Homo sapiens: one gene and its partners. The protein of the gene in region 1 interacts with the protein of each later gene in a pairwise test. Each region holds a gene or a part of one and is shown in the gene's direction. Other genes may lie near its edges.

Region 1 (2,150 bases):
TGCAGATATAATTAATTAAAATGAAGTTATGCTGGATTAGAGTGGACCCTAAATGCATTGATTGGTGACTTTATAAGAAAGCTGCGTGAAGACATATTGGTATACACAGAGAACACCATGTGAAGTTGGAGGCAGACGTTGGAGTGATGTGCTTACAAGCCAAGGAATGACTGCCAGCCACCACCAGAAGCCAGGAGAGAGGCATGGAATAAATTCTTCCTTAGAGCCTCCAGAAAGATCCAACGCTGCCAACACCTTGGTTTTGGACTTCTGGCCTTCTGAACTGTGAAAGAATAAGTTTCTGTTGCTTTAAGCCACTTACTTTGTGGTACTTTGTTACGGCAGCCCCAGGAAACTAATAACAGACACTGTCAACTATTACTGAATTTAGAATTCTTAGAACCATCCTTACCTGTATTAGTTTCCTAGTGATGCCCTCACAAAGTACCACAGACTGAGTTGCTTAAAACAATAGAAATTTATTCTTCCACAGTTCTGGAGGCTAGCAGTTCAAAATCTAGGTGTCAGCAGGGCCATACTTTCTCTGAAACCTGTGTGGGAATCCTTCCCTGCCTCTTCCTAGACTTTGATGGTTTTCTGGCAATCTTTGGCGTTCCTTGGTTTGCAGCTGCAAACCTCTAATCTCTGCCTCTATGGTCACCTGGTGTTCCCCCTGTGTGTCTCTGTCTTTACCTGGCTGTCTTTTTATAGGGAGGCCAGTCATATTGGATTAGGGGCCCACCCTACTCCGGTATGATCTCATTTTGCTCATCTTAATTTACCTAATTACATCTGCAAAAACCCTATTTCCAAACAAGGTCACATTCTGAGGTACTAGGGATTAGGACTTCACATAACTCTTTTGCATGAGGACACAACTCAACCCATAGCACTACACCTTTCTTTTGTCACCATTTCAAGTTGATCCCCTTCTAGCTATTTCATGTTCTCCTGCAGCAGCATCTCTCAGAGTAGCTCCTGTCCTCCATGCCCGCTTCAGCCACCCTGGTTATGGCACAGTCATTTTTCTGCGGTATTATAGTACTCACCTCCAGATTGATTTTCTTACTTCATGTCATTCTCTGTACATCCAGCAAGTTAGCTAATCAGTTTCTAATCAGATTTCTGTCATTTCCCTGGCCAAGACCTACCAGTGACTTCCCCTAACCACAGCCTCAAGTATAAACTAGCACAGAAGGCCAGAAGTTTGGCCCCAGCTTCTCCTTCTAACCATCTCTCTTGCCACTTTGCACCATGTGCCGCAAACCACACTGGGCTACTCACCCTTTCTTGAAAATAGATTTTAGATCTCCAGGCCTTTGCTTACGCTGGTCCCTATGCCTGGAATACCCTTCACAACCCTAAACCCTCTGCTGAACTGTTTTTCATCCCATAAGGTGCAACTGAATCACCACTTATTCAGCTTGCTTCCAAAATTCCATCACATCAAATTATTGAGCCTTTACCTATGTTTCTGTGACACCTTGTGATTCTGGATACTAATGTAACACTAGTAAAGATATAGAACCTCTTATATACAACAATTAACCTTGACAGTCATATTTTAACCTTGAAAGTAGAAATATAAGCAACCATATGTATGAACTTTGCCTCCTGTTGATATTAATTAACCATTGAGGCATATGCAAAAAGTTTGTGTGTGTGTATATACACGTATTTATGTATTATATAAAATGTGCATCTGTGTGTGTATATGTGTACACACACACACACAAATAAAGTGGCTTATCTGCAAGATCATACTGTGAGTGATCCAGTGTTCTTTTCATTGTTTACTGAAGAAACAGTAACCAATCAGCCAGTATAGATACCAGTTTGTATTTTAAAAATTGGGTTCTTTAGGCAGCAGTTCACGTCTGTAATTCCAGCACTTTGGGAGGCTGAGGTGGACATATAACTTGAAGCCGGGAGTTTGAGACCAGACCAGTCCGGCCTATATGGCGAAACCCGTCTCCTAGAAATACAAAAATTAGCCGGGCATGGTGGCATGTGCCTGTAATCCCAGCTACTCGGGAGGCTGAGGCATGAGAATCACTTGAACCCGGGAGTTGGAGGTTGCAGTGAGCAGAGATTGTGCCAGTGTACTCCAGCCTGGGCAACAAAGTGATACCCTGTCTTTAAAAAAAATA
Region 2 (3,500 bases), on another chromosome or scaffold:
GAATCATACTATCATTAAGTAGGCTTTACTGAAGGAGTATCTTTTTGCCGTACACGAAAACAGATGAGGATAGTTGAAATGCAAAGATTTGGTCACTGACCTTGAGATTTTATTTTTGTACAGGTTTAGGTTGCATTCTAAGAATATATTCTATAGAAGACATTTTGTATAACTAGTGCTCCATCCTCAGTGCCCTGACTAATTGTAGATGCTCAATGGAGATTGTGAGCTTGAGACCTTGATTGTAAAATGGAAAACTAGATATTGTATTGGAGGTTGTGCTCAAGGCCATTTAATTGTAGTCATAGCTTTGCAAAGGACTGTTAACATTATTATATACTTAAATATTATCCAAGTTGATTTATATTTAATGATATTTCCTAAAAGAATTGCTGTTGTGTGTCATAAATATATTAAAATATTTGATGTTAAAATTTTGATAGAAGGATTTTTTTAGTAGCTAAAGAAAAAGGTGTCCTTAATATTGAGAAAAAAAACATATGCTCACTGAAGAATTTATAAATATATCTTATCATAGTGTCTGTTTCAAATTTGTAGAATTAAAGTTTCCAAAAATAAAAGTGAGATTTTTAGTCACTGACTCGGGAGCATATGTTTCTAAGCTGCAGTAAACGTTTGGAAATATAACACAGGTAAAGAGGCAATAGTTGCATGAAGAAAAACCTGTAGCAACTTTAGACTCATTTTCATTTGGAAATAGTTTTGAGAGTCTTTCATACAATCTTTCCTTTCCTCCCTTAGTGAATTTAGGATTGTGAAGGCATTAGGTGAAAGATTACATTTATGACCTCTGCAAAAGATCAAATAGTCTTATTAGTCAGCCTATATTCATGAATTTTCTATCTTCTTTTGACATGAAGGGTTTTGAACAAGCGTTTCTTCTCTGGATGAGAAGAAAATGTATTTCACAATAAAACATGAAAATTATAAGGTGCTCAGTGGGATTATAACATTTGGTAGCACAGGAAAAAAGAGAAAGATGTGGAAGTGCCATAATCCATTGGTGTTTCATATAATTCTAGAAGGTTCTGGTTATAACCTGTTCCTAATTTGGAGCTAGAATAATCTCAGGGATTGTCTGAGGGTTCAGGTGAGCTTTGTTCTATCTTTGTTTGGAAATCACTTTACAGGTATTGTCAATGGTAGGAATGAGTTGGGTCAAAGCAACTACGTAGAGTCCCTGCCATCCTATTTTTGATACTGCCCAGGCTTCTTCATTCTTTTTGTAATAATGAAACTTAAGTTATAGAATTTATGATTGCATGGATTAAAAACATGGATGTTGCAATTATGTCGTGCTACAAGTGCCCTCTAAAGGTGTTAATGCTATATGAATTTACTTGCTGGCTTTTATGTTTTTGATATGTTTTTATATTTTATGTTTTTGGTATCAGGACTAAATAAATTTGACCTGATAATGTAGATTAATGGGAGAAATTCCAGTATTCATGGATTAGAACTAGGAGGGCTATCTCAGATACAGGCTTCTCACAGAAGGCTGGGGCCTAAGCATAGGTACTGAATGCAAAGCTCTGGTCCTGGACCTCACATGGTCCATTCATTGTCTATGGTTGGCCGTCATTGTTTCCTCTGTGGCTATAAGTTTCTTCCATATTATTGAGCAGGATGTTTATCTGAATTAATATAAATGACATATTCGAGAAGCATAGATCTTTATCCAAAACGATATCAGAAGTAGAAATAGTGCAGAAGACAAACTCCACCTCCCATCTGCTGATTCTTTTGAAACCCCTTGGTCCTCTTATCTCTGAAAGGGATACATGGCTTTGTTCTCCCAAATATCCTATCCACTTTCCACGCTGTTTCAAAAGTATTTCTGGCCAAATAAATGTAAATCTTCATCTTTTGTATATACAGATAATCATCATAGGTGTATTTGTGAATTATTTAAGTACTTGGAAGAATGAAGTTGCTGATAGCAATTAAAGTGGTGTGATTGGGGTTAACCTCACTTAAAACTGTTTCTTTATTAATTTTAAAAGCCTATAAGCGTTTAATATCTAAAAGCCACCTTCTTTAGAGAAGACTGACTTATTTAGTGGAACTTGTAATGCTTGCCTTTTGGAAGAAAAGGAATAGTTCTAAGTCACTCTGTTTTAGATTTGTCCATTTAGTAATAAATGTCTACCATGTCTCAGACACTGTTCTAGCAATGGAAATAGAGATGTGAATAAAAAGTAAAACCCCTTTCTTTACATTAAGCATATAGTCTAGCTGGTAAAGCAGTAGAATCCATACATAGTATATAAATATATATTAAGTCATGATAAGTACTGGAAGAAAAAAAGAACATTCAGGCTAAAAGGGAATAGAATATTTACACACTCTTGAAATAACCAGGGAATGTCCCTTCTGTTAGGGTGAAGGATGTAAGATACTTAACCACGAGGAATCTTGGCAGAAGAGAAGTATAAAGGAAATCACATGTGCTAAAGTCTTAAGTCAGAAGAATGTCCCTTCAAGGAATGGCCAGATGGCCGGCAGCTGCTGGGAATGAGCGAGGCAGGGAGGCACAGGCAGAAGCTACTTTAAGAGGAAGTAAATCCAGCTTAAGCTTCAAGATATTAGGGTGGTGCAAAAGTAATTGCATTTTTTGCCATTACTTTCAATGGGAAAAATCACAATTACATGGTCACCAACCTAATATTATTTTACTTTTAAAAGGGCTCTTCATACCCCAACTGTAGGAGCCTCAGGTCGGGAAATCATGGGTCCTGATGAAGAGTTCAGGGATGGTTTATGTTTAGATCATGACAACATCATAAACTACAACCACTTTATTCTGAGTTTGATGGGAAGTCATTTGAATGTTGGGATCCTAGAAATATTGTAACATAAGTTGAGTGTTCAAAGCATCCACTCGGCTGTGCTGTGGAGAACATACTGGAGTAGGGAAAAGGTAGAAGTGGGGAGGCCAGATACCATACAGTATTCCAGGCAAGAGACAGGGTGGTTTGAAGGAGATATTAGAGATGGAGTTTTTGTAATTCTGCATAGGCTGTATTTCATATTTTCCTGCCAGAACTGATGGAGTTTCCAACAATGATGTGCAATGAAGAGACAAAGGAATCAAGGGTAACCCCTAAGTTTGGTCTGTAAACCTAGAAGAGTGAAATGTGCATTTATTGACACAGGGAACACTGTGGAGGAGCAGGTGTAGATGTGAGGGGAGTTCAAGTGTTTGTTTTTGAACATGTGAAATCTGAGATGCTGATTAGATATCCTTAGTGATGTTAAGTGGGCAGCTGGACACGTGAGATCCCAGAGATAAAGGAACATCTCAGGCCAGAGATATGTCTGTTAGGAAATTTCAGAAAATTAATGAATTTGAAGTCAAAGGCCTGGATGCCTTCACCCAGAGCAATTACCCCAGCCTGAAGTCTCAGTGTTGGAGCGCTTGCAGTCAGAGGTGTGAAGCTGAGACAGAATGTGGGGCAGCTACCAGGGAGTAGGAGGAG
Region 3 (3,500 bases), on another chromosome or scaffold:
AGCTAGGCTGAAACGCCAGCAAATTGTTTAATAACTCACATCTAGTCTCTAGATTTTTAACTCGCATGCACCAATAGCTTTTCTTGTGTCTCATCCACATCTCCCCCACTTTTCCATTTTTTTAAAAATACTTTTCTATCATCATAGCTGTTAGTTTCTAAGCAGAAAAATGGGGAAAGTGGATGCTGAGTCTCAGAGGCTCCCCTTTCTTCCCCTGGGAGCCTTGGTTGGTGGATACGTGACCAAGGAGCACCCCTGCACCTTGTGGAATGTCCCAGGAAGGGGAGAGAGACCACTGTAGGGACATCATAGTGTTTCCTTTCCAGCTGGTGACCATATGACTTCCAGCCTGTTGGCCAGTTGTGGAACTGGCCATCTGGGATTTTTTGCGTGCCACTCCTCCCTTGCTGTCCCACCTTTCTAGGATTTTCTCTCTCCCTTTGCCCTGGCAGCCTCTGCCCTGGTCTGGTCCCTACCCTCCTCCAGTGGCCCATCAGCCCTCTCGCTGCTTCTAACCGCTTGCTGCTGCTGTTGGTCCCCATGTGTGCCCAGAGTCACTGGCTTCAAACACAGGTCAGATCGTGCTAGCACCACTCGTCTTAGTCAAGTCAGGCTGCTATAACAAACTGCCACGGACTGGGTGGCTTATACACAGCAGACATGCATTTCTCACAGCTCTGGAGGCTGGGAAGTCTGTGATTGGGGTGCCAGCATGTTCAGGTTCTGGTGAGGGTCCTCCTCCTGGTTGCAGACTGCTGATTTCTCGGTGTCCTCACGTGGTGGAAGGGGCTAGCTAGCTCTCTGGGCCCTCTTTTACAAGGACACTCATTCCATTTTAATTACCTAATTATCTCTCCCAGGCCCCACTTCCTAATACCATCACCTTAGGGGTTAGGATTTCAAAAAAGGAATCAGAGGGGGACCCAGACATTAGGATCATAGCAACCCTCGGTCCTTTCATGGCACTGCATTGCCTGTAGAATAAAGTCCAACCTGTCCTGCCTGGCATATGCAGCCCTCTGATCTGACTCCCATCACCCTCCCAGCTTGTCTCCATCCCCAGGGCCTGACCTTGGCCCCATCTGCTCTGACATTTGCCAGTGGTGTCTCTCTCCTTAGCCTGGCACATGTGTCCCAACTTCTTGTCCTTTGCTTCTCAGATACTCAACTTTTAAAAGCCTAACTCAAAATCTCAGGAGCTCTTGGAGTCGCCCTGCCTTACCCTCTGGGTGGTTGTTAACTCAGCATCTCCCACTAGTCTGGGACCCAGTTTCTCTGCTCAGCCTTAGCCTGCCCCTGGTCACCTAGCACAGTGCCTGTACTTGGTAGTGGCTCAGTGAGTTGGCTGAATGGACATGAAGTGGGTTCAGGCCACCCTGAGAAGTAGGGACAGCATAGTGGGGCAGTATCGAGGGGCCTTGGAAAGGCCAAGGGGGCAGAGTGCTGCAGTCTGCCTTGCTGGGTGTATTGACACTCAGAGCACCTGTGGGTCTGGCTGTATAGGCTGAGATGTCCTATTGGGAATGCCATTCATGTTCCCTCTGCCCAGGTTCCTTCCATGCCGGGGATCTCAGAGGATGCATAAGGAGAAGCCTTGGCTCTTAAAGGGCATGGCTGGCCTCCAAAGCCTACTCAACCCTACTGATTTAAGGTAGCTGTTTGAACACCTGGCTTAATTTGGGCTCTCTGTGGGGTGGGGGTTAAGGGCAGAGAGGGAGTAGATGCTGGGGGCTCTCAAGTTGAAGGAGTGGGGGCCACCGGGCACAGAACGCATTGCAGATGCACTGTCCTCCTGTGTACGTCGGCCAAGCAGGGAGGGACATTGAAGACTCACTGTCAACTCTTGGCATTGCTTCTGTCCAGAAAGATACATCTCTCATTATGTCTCCCTCCAGCAAGTGAAGCTGAGTAGACTACTCAGCATTTCTGAGAGACCTTGGTGGCTCCCAGTGGGATTGGAAGGCCTCAGAGAGCTATGCCTTGTGACCCAGCCCCAGCTACTGCCCACTCCTGGCCAGGGGTTCTCTAGCCATTGCTGGAGCTGTACTAGAGGCAGGAGTCCTCTGTACCATCCTTACTGGGCCTCTTCCAGGGTAAGCCCAGACAGGCGGGCAGTCAGCTCCAGAGGTAGCATTGAGTCCAGCCCCGTGGTTTCTGAAAGACAAACCGAGATATTTTCAGATCCCAACTCTGCCTCTTTCTGTGTGATCTTAGGCAAGTTATTTAATCTCTCTTTTACACTGGTAAAAAGGGGGATAAGAATGCCTGCCTTGTAGGATTGCAAGTTTTAAATGAACTGACAACATAGATAAGGTACCTAGCATAACGCCTAGATTCGCTCCCCTTCCTTCCTGCTTTTTGTTGGCCAGGAGCAAAATCCTGTGCTGGCTGTTTTTCTCCTTCCCTGCTCAGCCTTCCTGACTGCTGGTGAGATGGGGCGTGGCTCCAGGTGCTTAGACTTCAGTGTCTGCAAAGGGAAGGGATATCAGGGTGGGTGTGAGGGGCACAGAAGTGTGGGGGACAGTGAGAGGTGGGCCTTGCCTGCCTACTAGTCCATCCTAACCCAGCCATGAGTGGGACGGAGGTGGTGAGGACCAGACCTCTCACTTGCTATCTCCATTGATGGCCAGGAAGGCAGGGAGGTTCTTCGTGCCATCCCTTCTCTTCCCCCTACCTTCCACCAGACACTTCCCGATTCCATGCTGAGCAGCCCATGGCTTCCAGCAGCCAAAGCTTTACCCCCTCCCCCCACCCACTCTGGACTGGACTGACAGATGCTAGGCCTACTTACGTTTCCTGCTTGTGCCTTCCCACACAGGGGACAGCGGTGTGGGGCCAAGTGCAGGTGATATTGCCCAGGCACCAGCACAGAGACACACAGATGGGCCTGCCGGGGAGCTCCTGTGCTCAGGAAAACAGAGCCCAAAAGGGTGGGCACTGAGCTGCCAGTTAGGACTCAGACACAAGGTCAGATACTTCCTCCTGTGGTGCTGCAGCTGGAAATTTCGGCCATGGCTCCAGAGCAGTGTCAGAAAGGGATTGGTAACAAACAGAAAATGGCAGCCTGTATGTGTGGGGTACTTTGGGGATGAACAGCCAGTTAGAATTAAATGAAAATCTCACATCACTCGCTAGCTTTCAATCCTTTGACAGTTGCCCATCGGGTTTAGGATGGAACTAAATCTCTTGACGTGGTTTGCAAGACCCTGCATGGCCTGGCCCTTGCCTTTCCCTTTAGCCTCCTCTTCTTCCCCAGCTGCACTGCACCATTCCTCTGTCTGATCCTCCCACCGGCCATGTTTCCTCCTGGCCCAGAGTGTTCACAGACACTATTCCATCTTCCGGATTCCGCCATTCACCTGGTGTTCTGGGTAACGTCGGTCATGAGAGCAGGGACTTTGCATGCTCTTCCTTGGTTATATCCCCAGTGCCAAAAAGACAGCCTTGCTTGTAGAAGGCATCAAATAATACTTGTTGAGTGAATGGACCTAAGATTCATG
Region 4 (3,500 bases), on another chromosome or scaffold:
ACCCAGATCCAACACAACCGCCACCTGGGCCTCGGCAGCCTGCCCTCACCCGCCGAGGCCGAGCTCTACCAATACTACCTGGCCCAGAACATGAACCTGCCCAACCTGAAGATGGACAGTGCTGCCTCGGACGCCCAGTTCATGATGAGCGGATTCCAGCTGGATCCCGCCGGGCCCATGGCCGCCATGACGCCTGCTCTAGGTGAGGATGACTACGTGTTTGTCTGTTTTCATGATAGGAGTTTAACCAGGGAGAATGGTGAATAGGGTGAGATAGTCCTGTGGATTCAGTTGACTCTGGTCTTCTCGAGTGGTTTTTGTGTAAACTGGAGTGTCTTACAATCAAGTATTCTCAAGAATCCCTTGAACTGTGTGTGTACATATGGAAGAGTTTATGCATTCAAAAGAGATATGCTTGTACTCTGGCTACGTGGGGCCAGGATTAAAATGTGAGTGTTTCCTCTAGTTTTCTGTTCCCATTCTCTCTTTCTCTGTCTCTTCTTTCAATTTGAAAAATCACTATAATCACCTAAAACTTTGGGGTTTCATCGAATATTTACTGAAACTTACAGGAAACTGTAGCTGAGGCAATCATTTCAATAAGAGGACTAGGGACAGTTACCTCAATGATTTAAGTAGAGACAATCATCTTAATAATAGGAATTCGGAACCACAGTGTACGTTATTCAGATAACTAAAGGCTGATTCTGTGCCGAGCTAGGGAACCATCCAGATAGACTTCTCAAAGTTCTCTGTATATTTATGAGGACCTCAATGAAAGAGATGTTTTTTTTTTTGCTTATTTTTGATGAGTACTTGGTGATTAGAATAGTTGGAAATTAATTGGGAATTAAATTCCCCAGTGGCACTGTTGTGAGGGGTGTGAGAGATGAAAAATGAGTAAGTTGTAAAAATTGTCCATCAAGGAAAGTTAACTTTTAATAGCAGTTAGATCCTGGTTAGCGGAGCCTTCGCTGCCAGGAAGAATGACCTCTGCTTTAGAGAAGCTGATTTGGCTCTGTTCAGGCTCCCAGTCTTACCAATTGGCTTACAATATCTAGAATAGGACCAAGAGTGTAGGATTTGGGTGCTAAAAACTTTGAGTTTTTACGTAGAACGAACCACAGCCACTTTGAGGATAGCTGCTGCTGCCAAAACAATCTACAGATGGGTTTCATGAGAACCTTCTGATAGTTGGGCCACTCGTGCCTCCACCCGGTATGCTTCAAACAGGATCCTGCCTGCGTCCCATCCCGTGACGCTGCTAATGGACTTCGTGGGACCAGTGACAATGGCCTGAATTAAGCAATATGCCATTATTGACATGGGAATAGGTTGTTCTTGGCAACAGAGTGTCAGTGAGGACTTTTTTTCCAGGATGGCTTAGATGACTGCAGGGCCAGGCCTCAGCAGTTGGCAAGTGTTTATTTGTGTGGTGTTTGAGTGCTAATTGTTGCCGATGAGTTATATTTCAAAGCATTCCATTGGTTTTTCTTGCTATGTATTCAGTTTTTAATCCTTAGTACTTTAATCTCATTTTCCATTTTGAAATATTTGCCTGTTGATCCTTTATTACCAAATGATTTGAGGGTATTTGAAACCAACTGGCTAATTGTGGATGCACAAGCACTGGTCGTCTTATTTGTCACCAGGGTGAACCATGCACACCAGGAGATGGGAGTGAGTACTCTAAGGTTTTCTTTAAGCCAGTAGGAATTAGAAGGAGTCATAGAATCTCGGGAGGTAGATCTTGGAGCAAATCAAACATAACGGAGGTGGAATGAAGACAGAACGTGGGAACGTGGGTAGGTTCATGTTGGGTCAAAGTGAGGGTTTTTTTTTTTTTTTTTTTGAGACAGAGTCTCGCTCTGTCACCCAGGCTGGAGTGAGTGGTGCCGTCTCGGCTCACTGCAACATCCACCTCCTGTGTTCAAGCGATTCTCCTGCCAGAGCCTCCCAAGTAGCTGGGATTACAGGCACCCGCCACCATGCCTGGCTAATTTTGTGTTTTTAGTAGAGATGGGGCTTCACCATCTTGGCCAGGCTGGTCTCAAACCCTTGACCTCAGGTGATCTGCCCGCCTTGGCCTCCCAAAGTGCTGGGATTACAGGCATGAGCCACTGTGCCCAGCCTAAAGTGAGGCTTTTTAATTACCTTAAGAACAGGTAACTAAGGCTTGTATTGAGAAGTAGAGAAATATTTCGCTTTCACACCAAGTGTCTGTGAGTCTTTGGGGCATCATGCACTGTCCTGGGCATTGCGGCAGATTCAGAAGGAGCAGAAGAATGAAGCCCTGTGTTGTAGACACACATGGAAGGGCCACACCATATTTCTTAGACTGGAGCTCTTCCTCCCAAAGGATTTATCCAGCTCAGTCACAAAGGGCTCTTGAATTTCCAGTGTCACTACTTGTCGGCCACGGGGAGTCCCTGGAAACCTGTGCCTTCCTTGGGCCGCGAAAACTGCTGAGAAGGTGTGAGAGCCACAAATCCTTTATGCCAGAAGCTCGAGTGGGTGTGGGGGCCATAGGAAGTGTCCAAAAGACTTGGAATTTGAGTTGTATGACCTCAGTAGGAGAAACCAACTTATGCAAATAAAAACAGCCATAACTTTCAGTTCTAGCTGTGGCTGTACTGGTTTTTTTTCCCCATGGTCCATTTATAAGATGGCTGTAGGTGTTATTAGATGTGACTGAGTTCTGCAGGGAGAAAAATGTTTTTGTGAAATACACTCCTCTTTACAAGGTGATTGTTTTCATACTTCCCTTGGCAGAGCCCTCTTTAGTATCATCAAACAGACACTGATTGTGGGGTTGCTTCTTTTCAGAAGCCTTTGAGGAAAGGCTTGGGGCTCCTTCGCCTAGTACAGTCGGATCTGCTGCTCTTTGTAGACAGCACATTAGATTTGAGGCCTTGTGAACATCCTCCCAAACCTTCCTTTCGACTCTGAAGTTTAGCATAGCACCAAGAAAGGGGTTGCTTGTCGGGGTGGCTGTGTGTTTCCCAAGTAGCCAGCCAGCCCCTGGACACCTGCACAAGGTTTAGCAGCTCCCTTCGTCTCCCTTTCATTCCAGAGTGTGCCTTTGAATCCATGCACCTTCCTGAGGATGTGCTGATGGGTGGGCTCACGTGTCAAGGTGTCAGTTCCAGTGTTAGAGTTAGGTGCATACCCAGAGATGGGGACCTGCTCCAAGACCACGTATCCAGTGTGGCTCAAGACTAAGGACCTGCCAAGTTCTTTTTTTCATTTCTTTTTTTTGAGATGGAGTTTCACTCTTGTCGCCCAGGCTGGAGTGCAATAGCGCAGTCTCGGCTCACTGCAGCCCCTGCCTCCCGGGTTCAAGCAATTCTTCTGCCTCTGCCTTCCGAGTAGCTGGGATTACAGGCATGCGCCACCATGCCTAGCTAATTTTTGTGTGTTCAGTAGAGACAGGATTTCACCACATTGGCCAGGCTGGTCTTGAACTCCTGACCTCAGGTGATCTGCCCACCTTGGCCTCC
Region 5 (3,241 bases), on another chromosome or scaffold:
CAGTGTATCTCCATCCCCTACCCCCACCGTTCTTCCCAAAATGCTAACATTCTCTTTCTTCTGAAGACTTTTAAGGCAAAGTCTGGTGGGTGTTAAGTACAGACCTGCTCACAGGCACAGGCATAGGCACCTGGAATCCCTGGCAGCCAGAGGAATCTGAATCCAGTGTTTTCAAGGTGGAGCCGCCCCCACCCAGGCCTTGAGTCAGAAACCTGACTTCCTTCCATTGATGTTTTTCTCTGCTCTGCTCGGTACCTCACCCCCATCAGTGACAGCCTTCAGCACTTGGTGTCCCTCTATGCACACCTTCTCCCTAGCTCTGCCTCACTCTGGCTGTTTGCAGGGGGAGGGACGTCCCCTCCAGCCCCTGGCAGCCCTCCGTGTCTCCCTCTTTGGCTGTGGGTGTCTGCTTGGGTCCCTCTGTCCCTGCCTGTTCCCTGTGCCCCATCTGTCAGGTTGGAGGAGCTGAGCAGATGCCTGGGAACAGGGCGTAACATGCCCGTACCTTCCACTGCCTCTGTGTTCCTTTTGAGGGGTTCCCAGCAGGGTACCCCGTCATGGGAAGGGGTGCACATCCCTGTACACCAGGAGCCCACTCTGCACTCTCAGTCCCAGGCTGCATCTCTGCAGCCCCCAATTTCATGGTCCCAGTTCTGGCTCACCCTCAAATACCACCAGGTTAGGTTGACAGCTTCCTGGAGAGCACCTGCAGTGTGAGGGTCACCCCTTGAACAGCCAGTAAGCAAAGCAGGGTCACTTGCTTATGTTCCTCTCTGGCGCCCTCTTCTGGCCCAAGGATCAAATGGTGCAACTCCCTTAACCTGTGTCTGAGCTCTGTGTCCAGAACCCTGAGGGGTTCTCTCTCCCATCTGACCCTGTGACTCACCCCCACCTCCAGTGCCGGTAGAGGTCTTGGTGGTTGAGTGTACCAAGATGATCACATTTAATTCTCACAACAAATTTCTAAGATGAGCACTATTGGCCCATTTTACAAGTAAAGAAACAGACCCAGAAAAGTTAATTACCCAAGGTCACACAGTGAGCATCTAAGGCAGGGTTTCAACGCAGGCAGTCTGATTCCAGGCTGTGCCCTGGCTCCTGCATGTGTCTACACAGAGGACTAGGGAAGGGTCTGACACAGCAGCTGGCCTGTCCGATTCATGCCCCACTCCTTCCGTTACCTTGCAGCTCTTCAGGGAACACCAGCATCCCGAGGGTTCTTCGCAGCTGCCATCCTCTTCCTATCACAGTCCCACGTGGCGCGGGCCACCCCGGGCTCAGACCAGGCAGTGCTAGCCCTGTCCCCTGAGTATGAGGGCATCTGGGCCGACCTGCAGGAGCTCTGGTTCCTGGGCATGCAGGCCTTCACCGGCTGTGTGCCTCTGCTGCCCTGGCTGGCCCCCGCTGCCCTGCGCTCCCGCTGGCCGCAGGAGCTGCTCCAGCTGCTAGGCAGTGTCAGCCCCAACTCTGTCAAGCCCGAGATGGTGGCCGCCTATCAGGGTGTCCTGGTGGAGCTGGCGCGGGCCAACCGGCTGTGCCGGGAGGCCATGAGGCTGCAGGCGGGCGAGGAGACGGCCAGCCACTACCGCATGGCTGCCTTGGAGCAGTGCCTGTCAGAGCCCTGAGGGGTGTCCACCGGGGACAGACCCAGGGGCGGGCAGAGAGGGAAGGAGGGAGGAGGCATCTTCCCTGAAGCCCCCAATCTGGCCCCCCCCTCCCCAGACTTCCTCCCCAAAACACCCCAGCTTTCTGGCTTTTCTGAGGGCAAGGGCATGGTGCCCACCCCTCAAGTGTAAGGAACTGCGTTCCGCCCCTCAGGCCCCCATGGGGGCAGGGATCGGCTTGGAAATCAACGTGGTTGTCCCCGCCAGGCCGGGGAAGGTTGGAGCAGCCCCCAGGGAGGGGGGCACTAGGTGTCATTGTGCCCGATGTCTGGCTCCCCTGCAGGAGGGAGGCTCCAGGGTAAGACAGGGCTGGCAGGAGCAGACTGCCTCAGCCCATGTGCCCTGCCGGCCAGGGCGTGGGCTCCCCTCGGCTGTGGTGCCTCCTCTGGCCCCCCAGGTCCACGTCCTTTAAATTGGCCCTTTGGCTCTTGCCCTTGGCTCCCTTGGGCAGACAGCAGGCTTAGGCCATTGATATCGCAGTTCTTCCTATCAGCTTCAGTGACCCAGGGTCTGAACTGCCTCCATCCTAGGGCAACCTGGGGCAGACAGGCCTGGTGGGGGGTGGGGAAACCTCCTTCCACCTGAGCTTGCTTGAAGGGACCCAGAGTCTTTGGGCCCAGATCTTTAAACCTTTGTGTCGTGTTGCAGCAGAGTGACGATGGGGGTTGGGGGGTTATTTATTTTGCCTGTCCTTATCCCTGCTTGGACACCTGAGCATCTGATTCCTGTCCCCCTGGTGCCATCTGGCCTGGCTGGAGCCAGGAACAGGAGGGACACTTCCCCAGAATCCGCATGTTTCCCCAGTGATTACACTCCACTGCCACCGTGGTGCCTGGCTTTAACTCCCACCCCTGCTATGACTCCTCTCTGCAGAGACGCGACTGGCGGCTCCAGCAGGGACTACCTTTCTTATAAACCCAGGGGGACCACACACACACACACACACACACACACACACACACACACACACACACACACTCTTGATCCCTTGCTTCCCTCCCCCAGTGCGTTCTGTGATCGCCAAGTTCAAAGCTGTGCACATGTGGACACTCAATAAATGTTCATTGGTGACGAGAAGCCTCCTGCGTGGTCTGCCCTGCACCTGCTCTCTCCCTTCCAGGCTCCATCAGTTCACAGCTACCAGGTGCTGAACACATGCCCTGCTAAACACATCATGAGACCTCATTCAGCCCTTCCAAGAATCCTCTGAAGGGTTCTGATTTTACAGACAAAGCAACTTTGGCATGGATAAGTGATTGGCTCAAGGTGTTGCCGCTAGTCAGTGCCAGAGCCAGGACTCCACACAGGCCATCCGACTCCCCAGCCCACATCTTTCACTTGTACAGCAGATTGCCAAACTCATGTTGATGTGGCCAGGCCTTGTGGGGGCTCTGGTGCTCTCAAGTACAGATGAAACACTGCACCCCCGCCCCCATGTCACTGGGTTGCTGCCAAGTGGCCCTGCCATATCCTCCCATTTTTAAAGAAGTCAGGAATCCTAATTTGTATGTGAAACCCAACTTTTGAATGTCAGTAACTATCTTTAATTAAATAACTACTGATCCAACAAAACATGC
Region 6 (3,500 bases), on another chromosome or scaffold:
ATACTAAACAAGTGGCAGATTATTCATGCCTCCCCTTTTTAGACCATATAGGGTCACTTCCTGATGTTGCCATGGCATTTGTAAACTGTCATGGCCCTGGTGGAAGTGTAGCAGTGAGGACGACCAGAGGTCACTCTCATGGCCGTCTTGGTTTTGGTGCTGGCTTCTTTACTGCAGCCTGTTTTATCAGCAAGGTCTTTATGCCCTGTATCTTGTGCTGACCTCCTATCTCATCCTGTGACCCAGAATGCCTAACCATCTAGGAATGCAGCCCAGTAGGTTTCAGCCTTATTTTACCCAGTTCCTATTCAAGATGGAGTTGCTCTGGTTTAAACGCCTCTGACGTTACCAGAAGTGAGCTTCCTAGTGGCCAAAGTAGGAAGGAGAGAAGCCTGAGCAGTTGTCAGCTCCACTGTGGCCACAAGATGCCAACATGCTAGTTGCTCAGGAGAAGCCCAGGTTTTCCTGGCACAATTAGTATCTGAGACACCCATGTCCACTGTGATTTGTTGCTCATGTGACGGAGCAACACACAAGGAGCTGTGCATCCTTACAGGTGAAGACTGACCACAGCAGAGAAAAACTTCAAAGACAAATTTAACACAGCTACCAGAGACAGAGACTCTTTTTTCTTTTCTTTTCTTTTTTTTTTTTTTTTTTGAGATGGTATCATTCTGTCGCCTAGGCTGGAGTGCAGAGACGTGCAATCACGGCTCACTGCAACCTTGAACTACTGGCCTCAAGCAATCCTCCTGCCTCAGCCTCCCAAGTAGCTGGGACCACAGGCACGCACCACCATGTCTAGCTGATTTTTAAATATTTTTTGCAGAGACAGGATCCTCCTTGTTGCCAGGCTGGTCTTGAACTCCGGGCTTCCAGGCACTTGACCTCCCCAAGTGCTGAGATTATAGGCGTGAGCCACTGCGCTCAGCTGAGACTCCCTTTTCATGCATTTCCTTGCATTCTTCTTTCTTCAAACCTTTGCCTATGTTATTTGACAACCCGCCTCAATTTGCCTTCCATCTCTCCACTCACCTCTTAAAGGCCAGGTGGTAATGCCTCCCTATGGTGGGGCAGCATAGCAGGTGTCTGTCCACTCTCTGACCCTCACTTCTGTTCCCCTAGACTGCCAGGAACTCCTGCCACCGCCACCGGCTCCCATGGCCCACATACCCAGTGGGGGTGCCCCAGCAGCGGGGGCAGCCCCCATGGGCCCCCAGTATTGCGTGTGCAAGGTGGAGCTGTCAGTGAGTGGCCAGAACCTACTGGACCGGGATGTTACCTCCAAGTCCGACCCCTTCTGTGTCCTCTTTACAGAGAACAATGGCAGATGGATCGAGGTGAGGCTCTTCCGTGTGTCTGCGGTGGGTAAGGGGGTGGCTAGGCTGCTGGGGAGGGGGAGTCTCCCAGGACTGGGATCCAGGATGTCTGATGGAAGTAGTTGGAGTGTGGGCTGGTGGCAGGGGATTACTTGGTAAATTGTTACTCTTAAAATGAAATTTTATTTTAAATATATTTAAAATATTACTTTGTGTTTAAATTATTACAATTAAAATCTATAGATTTATATTTATATGATTTATAGTGATTATTTGATATCTTTTTTTTTTTTTTGAGACGGAATCTCTCTGTCCCCCAGGCTGGAGTGCAGTGGTGAGATCTCAGCTCACTGCAACCTCTGCCTCCCAGGCTCAAGCAATTCTCCTGCCTCAGCCTCCCGATTAGCTGGGGCTACAGGTGTGCACCCCACGCCCAGCTAATTTTTGTATTTTTAGTAGAGACATGGGTTTTCGCCATGTTGGCGAGGCTGGTCCTGAACTCCTGACCTCAAGCAATCCACCTGCCTCCACTTCCCAAAGTGCTGGGATTACAGGCATGAACCACCACGCCCCATCTTGTTATAAATTGTTATATATAGTTAACATTTTATAGTTTTATGAAATGTTTGCTTCCGCTTTTAAATAACCTTTCTAAATGAACACATGGTCAGTAAGAAACAGAGAAACAGTGAGCTCAGGCTTTGGGAGCTGGTCCAAGGCCCAGTGATGCTACTCCCTGCTGTGTGGCCTTAAGCAAGTAGCTGTCCCTTTCTGAACCTGTCTCCTCATCTGTGAAATTATTATATATTTTTTTTCTGCTGACTCCCTTGGAAGGCCCCAGATCTGGGGATATTAATGGTGCCCCAGGCAAGGACTTCTGAGCTGGAAGACTTTGGCTTGAAGGTTGGAAAGAGTTGCAGCTTGAGGAAGGATGTTGAGAAACCTAAGCTGTTCAGACCTTCAGGTTTTAAAACTTGCTTTGCTTTTGCAAAAGGAAACTATTGGAGTAAATGTAGAGAATCCAGATAAACCTAAAGGAGAAAATCAAAATTGTTAGGAACCCACCTGTCATAGAGAACCACTGTTAACCGTTTGGTATCCAGCCTTCCAGATGGCTTTATATGCATGTATATTTCCCAAAATATGTGTGTATTTTTTAATGGATATTTAACTAGGCCACGGTGGGAGTTCACCTGAACATACTGTGGTTTACAAAGAGTTCCCATGGATGTTGGCTCCTTCTTGTGATGCCAAGAAAACGGTGTGGGATTGTTGACCCACTTTACAGAGGGGGAAACAGGGGCCCCAGAGTGGGTAGGGACTTTTTTGTGTCACCCAGCTTGTTGATGGTACAACTGTAAGTGGGAGGTGGGACATGGGGCCAGCTGAGGACTCCTGGGGGAGCCACAAGCCTGTGAGAGGCATGTCTGGGGGCACAGTTCCCTTCCACCAGGTCTCTAGAACCCTTGAGTGCCCCGAGGGAGTGGTATCCCCCTGACTCATAGCACAATCCCCCACCCTCCCTGACAACCTCTGCCCCCACCCAGGCCAGCCACCCTGGCTAAAAATAGCCCAGGGCCAAGACCTCCTCCGTCCCTGCTGCTCCAGCCCTTGGAAATGGACTGGGTGGGAGGAAAAGTCAACACAGCCTGGGCCCCAAAATAGACTGTCACCCAGACTCCGCGGTTTGGGGCCTCAGCATCCAGAGGCCAGGAGGCGGGTTTCCTGTCCCAGTGCCACCACTGACCCACAGTACCAGGCCCTGTCCTCAGCCAGGCTTTGGTATCCACAGTAGGTGGGGTGTTGGGCTGCACAGTGTCAGGATTCTATACAAGATACAAATATCTCCCCGCGCTCCCGTGGGGAGTCCCTGACCCCACCTCCCCCGAAGAATCCTCCCTGCTTTCTGTTTCCTCTCTCAGTTTCCATGTAAAACATGGTTTGAAAAAGGGTTTTCCCAAAATAAAAAGTGAAAACCGCAAGTAGTCAAATCCTTTCCCTTTACAGAGGTGGAAACGGAGGCCCAGATGGGGAAAGGGCCTTGTCCTCCATCTCTTACCCAGGCAGGGGCAGGGCCTGAGCTCTTACCCTGGCACCTGGGTAGGGAGCCAGGGCCAAAGAATTAAGAGTGTGGGTAGCAGAGTCAGACCTCGGTTTCAAATCTCGGCCCTGCTCCACAAG
Region 7 (3,500 bases), on another chromosome or scaffold:
GTAAATATACATTGAGGTGAACCATGAACTATTTTGATAGCATAGGGCTCACTAAGATTCAGAGATAAATATTTAATATGTCTTTTAAGATCTTTTTATAGTCTTTGTGTTGAAAGATCAGCCTTTATCCTGAGTCTTACTACTCCCATGCTTTCCTTTCAAAGTTTTGAATCATTTGTTTGCGGGTGATTTGACCCCATGAGGCACACCTAATTTTGCAAGACTTTTGAACTTACAGTGTTGCTTACCTTGTTCCCCTCCTGCTCATTAAAAAAATGTCTGCTACAAACTTTCTACATATTCTTTATTAGGTAAATTTATACAAAATTATCCTTAACCAAATATTTTATATTTTCTACTACTTTTAATATTTCTCTTACAGATTTTATGTGATTTATTATTACCTGAAAACTTAAAAGAAGGCCTGAAGGAATCTTCCTGGAGTTCATTACCATGTACTAAAAACAGACCTTTTGATTTTCATTCAGTGATGGAAGAGTCTCAGTCTCTCAATGAACCTAGCCCAAAGCAGGTACGGGGTGAGACAAGGTTATCATGAGTTTAGCGTATCCATTTCTTTACGAGTTAAGAGCTTCACTTTCCTAGTTTCAAGTACTAGCACCTACTTAAGTACTTTTAACCTGGTTAGTTATCATAGTAGAATTTTTTCCATAGCCTTTACTTTACACTAAAATCTTTTATGTAAAATATTTGCTAATGAATCACAATTTTAGGTCCCGTGAAAGAAAACTTTTAGTTCTTTAAAAATATGTATAGAACATTGCATTTATGTTTCCTCAGGGTAGTAACAGCTGTGTTATAGCATAACTACTTTTAAACCTCATTATAACATAAGTCACCTTGATTTCTAGGGCTGTGTAAGTACAGTCATCCCTTGTATCTGTGGGAGATTGGTTCCAGGACCTCTCACAGATAGCAAATCCAAGGATGCTCAAGTCCCTGATATATTAATAAAATGGCACAGTATTTGCATATAACTTATGCACATCCTCCTGTATACTTAAATCATCTCTAGGTTACTTATAATACCTAATACAATGTAAATACTATGTAAATAGTTGTTATACTGTATTGTCTAGGGAATAATGACAAGAAAAAAGTCGATATATGTTCAGGCTTTTTTTTAGAATATTTTCTATCCCCAGTTGGATGAACCCACGGATGCAGAGCCTGTGGATACGGAGGGCCAACTGTGCTGGCAAAAATCATTTACTTGTCACAGTGTTGGAATCAAGTTAGTGCTATTAAATGAACATTAAAATGAGCATTATAAGGCATTGAAATTTCATTTCAGTTTGATTCTTGGTGAGAGGAATAAAGGATAGTAAAGAAATACAGTTACCTTTGTTTATTGTATTTTTGTAGAGTGAAGAAATACCAGAGGTCACTTCAGAGCCTGTCAAAGGAAGCTTAAACCGTGCTCAGTCAGCACAGTCTATAAATTCAACAGAAATGCCTGCCAGAGAGGACTGTTTAAAAAGAGTGTCCTCAGAACCTGTTCTGTCAGTTCAAGAAAAAGGTGTTCTGCTGAAAAGAAAGTTGTCTCTTTTAGAACAGGATGTGATTGTAAATGAAGATGGAAGAAATAAGCTGAAAAAACAAGGAGGTAAAAATTTTGCTCTACACTTATATAAAATAAATTTATTTAGTCAGAATAGTCTTTAAAGTTTTTCCTAAGGAAGAAAACCCCATGTCTTTGTTTTAATAGAAACTCCCAATGAAGTCTGTATGTTTTCCTTAGCTTATGGTGATATTCCAGAAGAATTAATCGATGTCTCAGATTTCGAGTGTTCTCTCTGCATGAGGTAAGCATATAAAACTTTATAGAAGATGAATATTTTATGTTAGTATACATAAAATACCGTGTAGATAAAGGTAATAATAGACAATGTAAAGTAACACAATGCTGGAATAAAAATCAAAAGACATGAATTTTAGTCCTGGGTTTACCTTTCATGCCTTGGGCAAATAACTGAATCTCTGAACCTCAGGTTTCCTAATTTAGAAAGTGGGATCAAGCTTTGCATGGCCTACATCTCATTGTTGTGAGAATCACATGGCTTCAGTATAAAAGGAATCTGGGAAATTGTAAAGTACTAAGAAAGTTATAGATGATATTATTTTTGAAACTTACCTATCTCCATGGTTTTAAATTTGGGTATGAATTCTAATTAGTATTTTATGTATATGATCCTATCTTATTAATGTATATTAACCATAAAGTCTTTTTAAAGTAACATAAGGATAAGGATTTCCATTATTCAGAATGCTATAATTCTAAAAGACTAAATGTTTTGAAATAACATTTCTCATTTACATGAATTGTGTAGGATCAAAAGATTCATACGGGGTCAGGAGGCCTAGTGCTGGTCACACTAGGCTGGTAGCAGTTACATTCCTGAGCAAGTCTTAATTCTGAGCCTTGGTTTCTTCATCTGTGAAGTGAGGGGATTATACTAAACAGTCCCTAAAGTACCTCTAAATCTATTTCTAGCAAATTCAAAACTATCATGTTTCAGAAAATAAGTAAAACTAGTTGTTCTGTAATGTTTGAATAATACATTTAGTATTAAGTCTAACATTAGGATTCAACTGCATTATTTATTAGGTCATTCTTTTTATGAGTTTTATATCATAAGGGTCTTATAAACCTATTAAGGAATCATTTTTAAGTTGATATTAAAATGGGAATCTAAAGGCTATACAAAAGCTAACTAATGATTTTTAATGATGTATTTTACATTATTTATTTTGCAGAAAGTCTTTGAAATCTGGTATGTATTTTACATTCAGTGCACATATCAGCTTGTACTAGCCACATTTCAAGTGATTAGTAGCCATAGTGTCCAGGGGCTGTTGCGTTAGTCAGGACAGCTCTAGGCCCTTGGCTCTAGGCCTTTGGCAGGAGGCCTTTGTTGATGGAGAATTTTAAAACATTCTGGAGGGTATGGTTACACTTATCACTGCCCTTTCTCTCCTCTCCTGCCTGCTGGGCCCTCCTTCTTCCTCCTTTAAATAGAGATTAGTGTTATGGTTCTAAAGTAGTACAAGCTTTTCAGTGGATAGTTTAATGTGAAAACTAACATGTATCTTGGTTGATTTCAGGTTGTTTTTTGAGCCAGTAACAACCCCTTGCGGACATTCGTTCTGTAAGAATTGTCTTGAGCGTTGTTTAGATCATGCACCATATTGTCCTCTTTGCAAAGAAAGCTTAAAAGAGGTAAATATTTGTATATGTGTCTGTTTGTTGGTCTTAAGTTTGGCAGCATGGTTTAATTTCTGTTCAGCCATAGAAATAGTGATGATCACGTTCAGAATTACATTCTATATTCTGAGTGACTAACAAGGATAATGTTTTATTACCCATATGCTAATGTTGGAGAAAAGTGAGGTTGAAGAGGATGGGGAGAAAGAAGACAGATGCTGAAGACCAACCCCCTTGTACTTAATTTTTTTTTTTTAAACAAAAGTGGGTATGG

The links.
Region 2: the proteins of EFHC2 (region 1) and CCDC102B interact in binary tests that used the Homo sapiens proteins (3 or more experiments, as listed by UniProt).
Region 3: the proteins of EFHC2 (region 1) and ZBTB16 interact in binary tests that used the Homo sapiens proteins (3 or more experiments, as listed by UniProt).
Region 4: the proteins of EFHC2 (region 1) and ZFHX3 interact in binary tests that used the Homo sapiens proteins (3 or more experiments, as listed by UniProt).
Region 5: the proteins of EFHC2 (region 1) and NCDN interact in binary tests that used the Homo sapiens proteins (3 or more experiments, as listed by UniProt).
Region 6: the proteins of EFHC2 (region 1) and CPNE2 interact in binary tests that used the Homo sapiens proteins (3 or more experiments, as listed by UniProt).
Region 7: the proteins of EFHC2 (region 1) and LONRF1 interact in binary tests that used the Homo sapiens proteins (3 or more experiments, as listed by UniProt).

Annotation. Positions count from the first base shown.
Region 1 is NC_000023.11:44,149,523-44,151,672, reverse strand, and holds part of EFHC2 (EF-hand domain-containing family member C2), read left to right. Parts: intron 1-2,150. UniProt on the Homo sapiens protein: Microtubule inner protein (MIP) part of the dynein-decorated doublet microtubules (DMTs) in cilia axoneme, which is required for motile cilia beating.
Region 2 is NC_000018.10:68,801,080-68,804,579, forward strand, and holds part of CCDC102B (coiled-coil domain-containing protein 102B), read left to right. Parts: intron 1-3,500. UniProt on the Homo sapiens protein: During interphase, forms fibers at the proximal ends of centrioles to maintain centrosome cohesion. During mitosis, dissociates from the centrosome following phosphorylation to allow centrosome separation. Contributes to CROCC/rootletin filament formation.
Region 3 is NC_000011.10:114,237,711-114,241,210, forward strand, and holds part of ZBTB16 (zinc finger and BTB domain-containing protein 16), read left to right. Parts: intron 1-3,500. UniProt on the Homo sapiens protein: Acts as a transcriptional repressor. Transcriptional repression may be mediated through recruitment of histone deacetylases to target promoters. May play a role in myeloid maturation and in the development and/or maintenance of other differentiated tissues.
Region 4 is NC_000016.10:72,954,129-72,957,628, reverse strand, and holds part of ZFHX3 (zinc finger homeobox protein 3), read left to right. Parts: coding exon 1-202; intron 203-226; exon of another isoform or gene 227-382; coding exon of another isoform or gene 383-449; intron 450-3,500.
Region 5 is NC_000001.11:35,564,039-35,567,279, forward strand, and holds the end of NCDN (neurochondrin), read left to right. Parts: intron 1-1,188; coding exon 1,189-1,625; 3' UTR 1,626-2,741; downstream 2,742-3,241. UniProt on the Homo sapiens protein: Probably involved in signal transduction in the nervous system, via increasing cell surface localization of GRM5/mGluR5 and positively regulating its signaling. Required for the spatial learning process.
Region 6 is NC_000016.10:57,109,583-57,113,082, forward strand, and holds part of CPNE2 (copine-2), read left to right. Parts: intron 1-1,125; 5' UTR 1,126-1,160; coding exon 1,161-1,340; intron 1,341-3,500.
Region 7 is NC_000008.11:12,735,027-12,738,526, reverse strand, and holds part of LONRF1 (LON peptidase N-terminal domain and RING finger protein 1), read left to right. Parts: intron 1-382; coding exon 383-532; intron 533-1,166; coding exon of another isoform or gene 1,167-1,255; intron 1,256-1,386; coding exon 1,387-1,627; intron 1,628-1,729; coding exon 1,730-1,826; intron 1,827-3,126; coding exon 3,127-3,241; intron 3,242-3,500.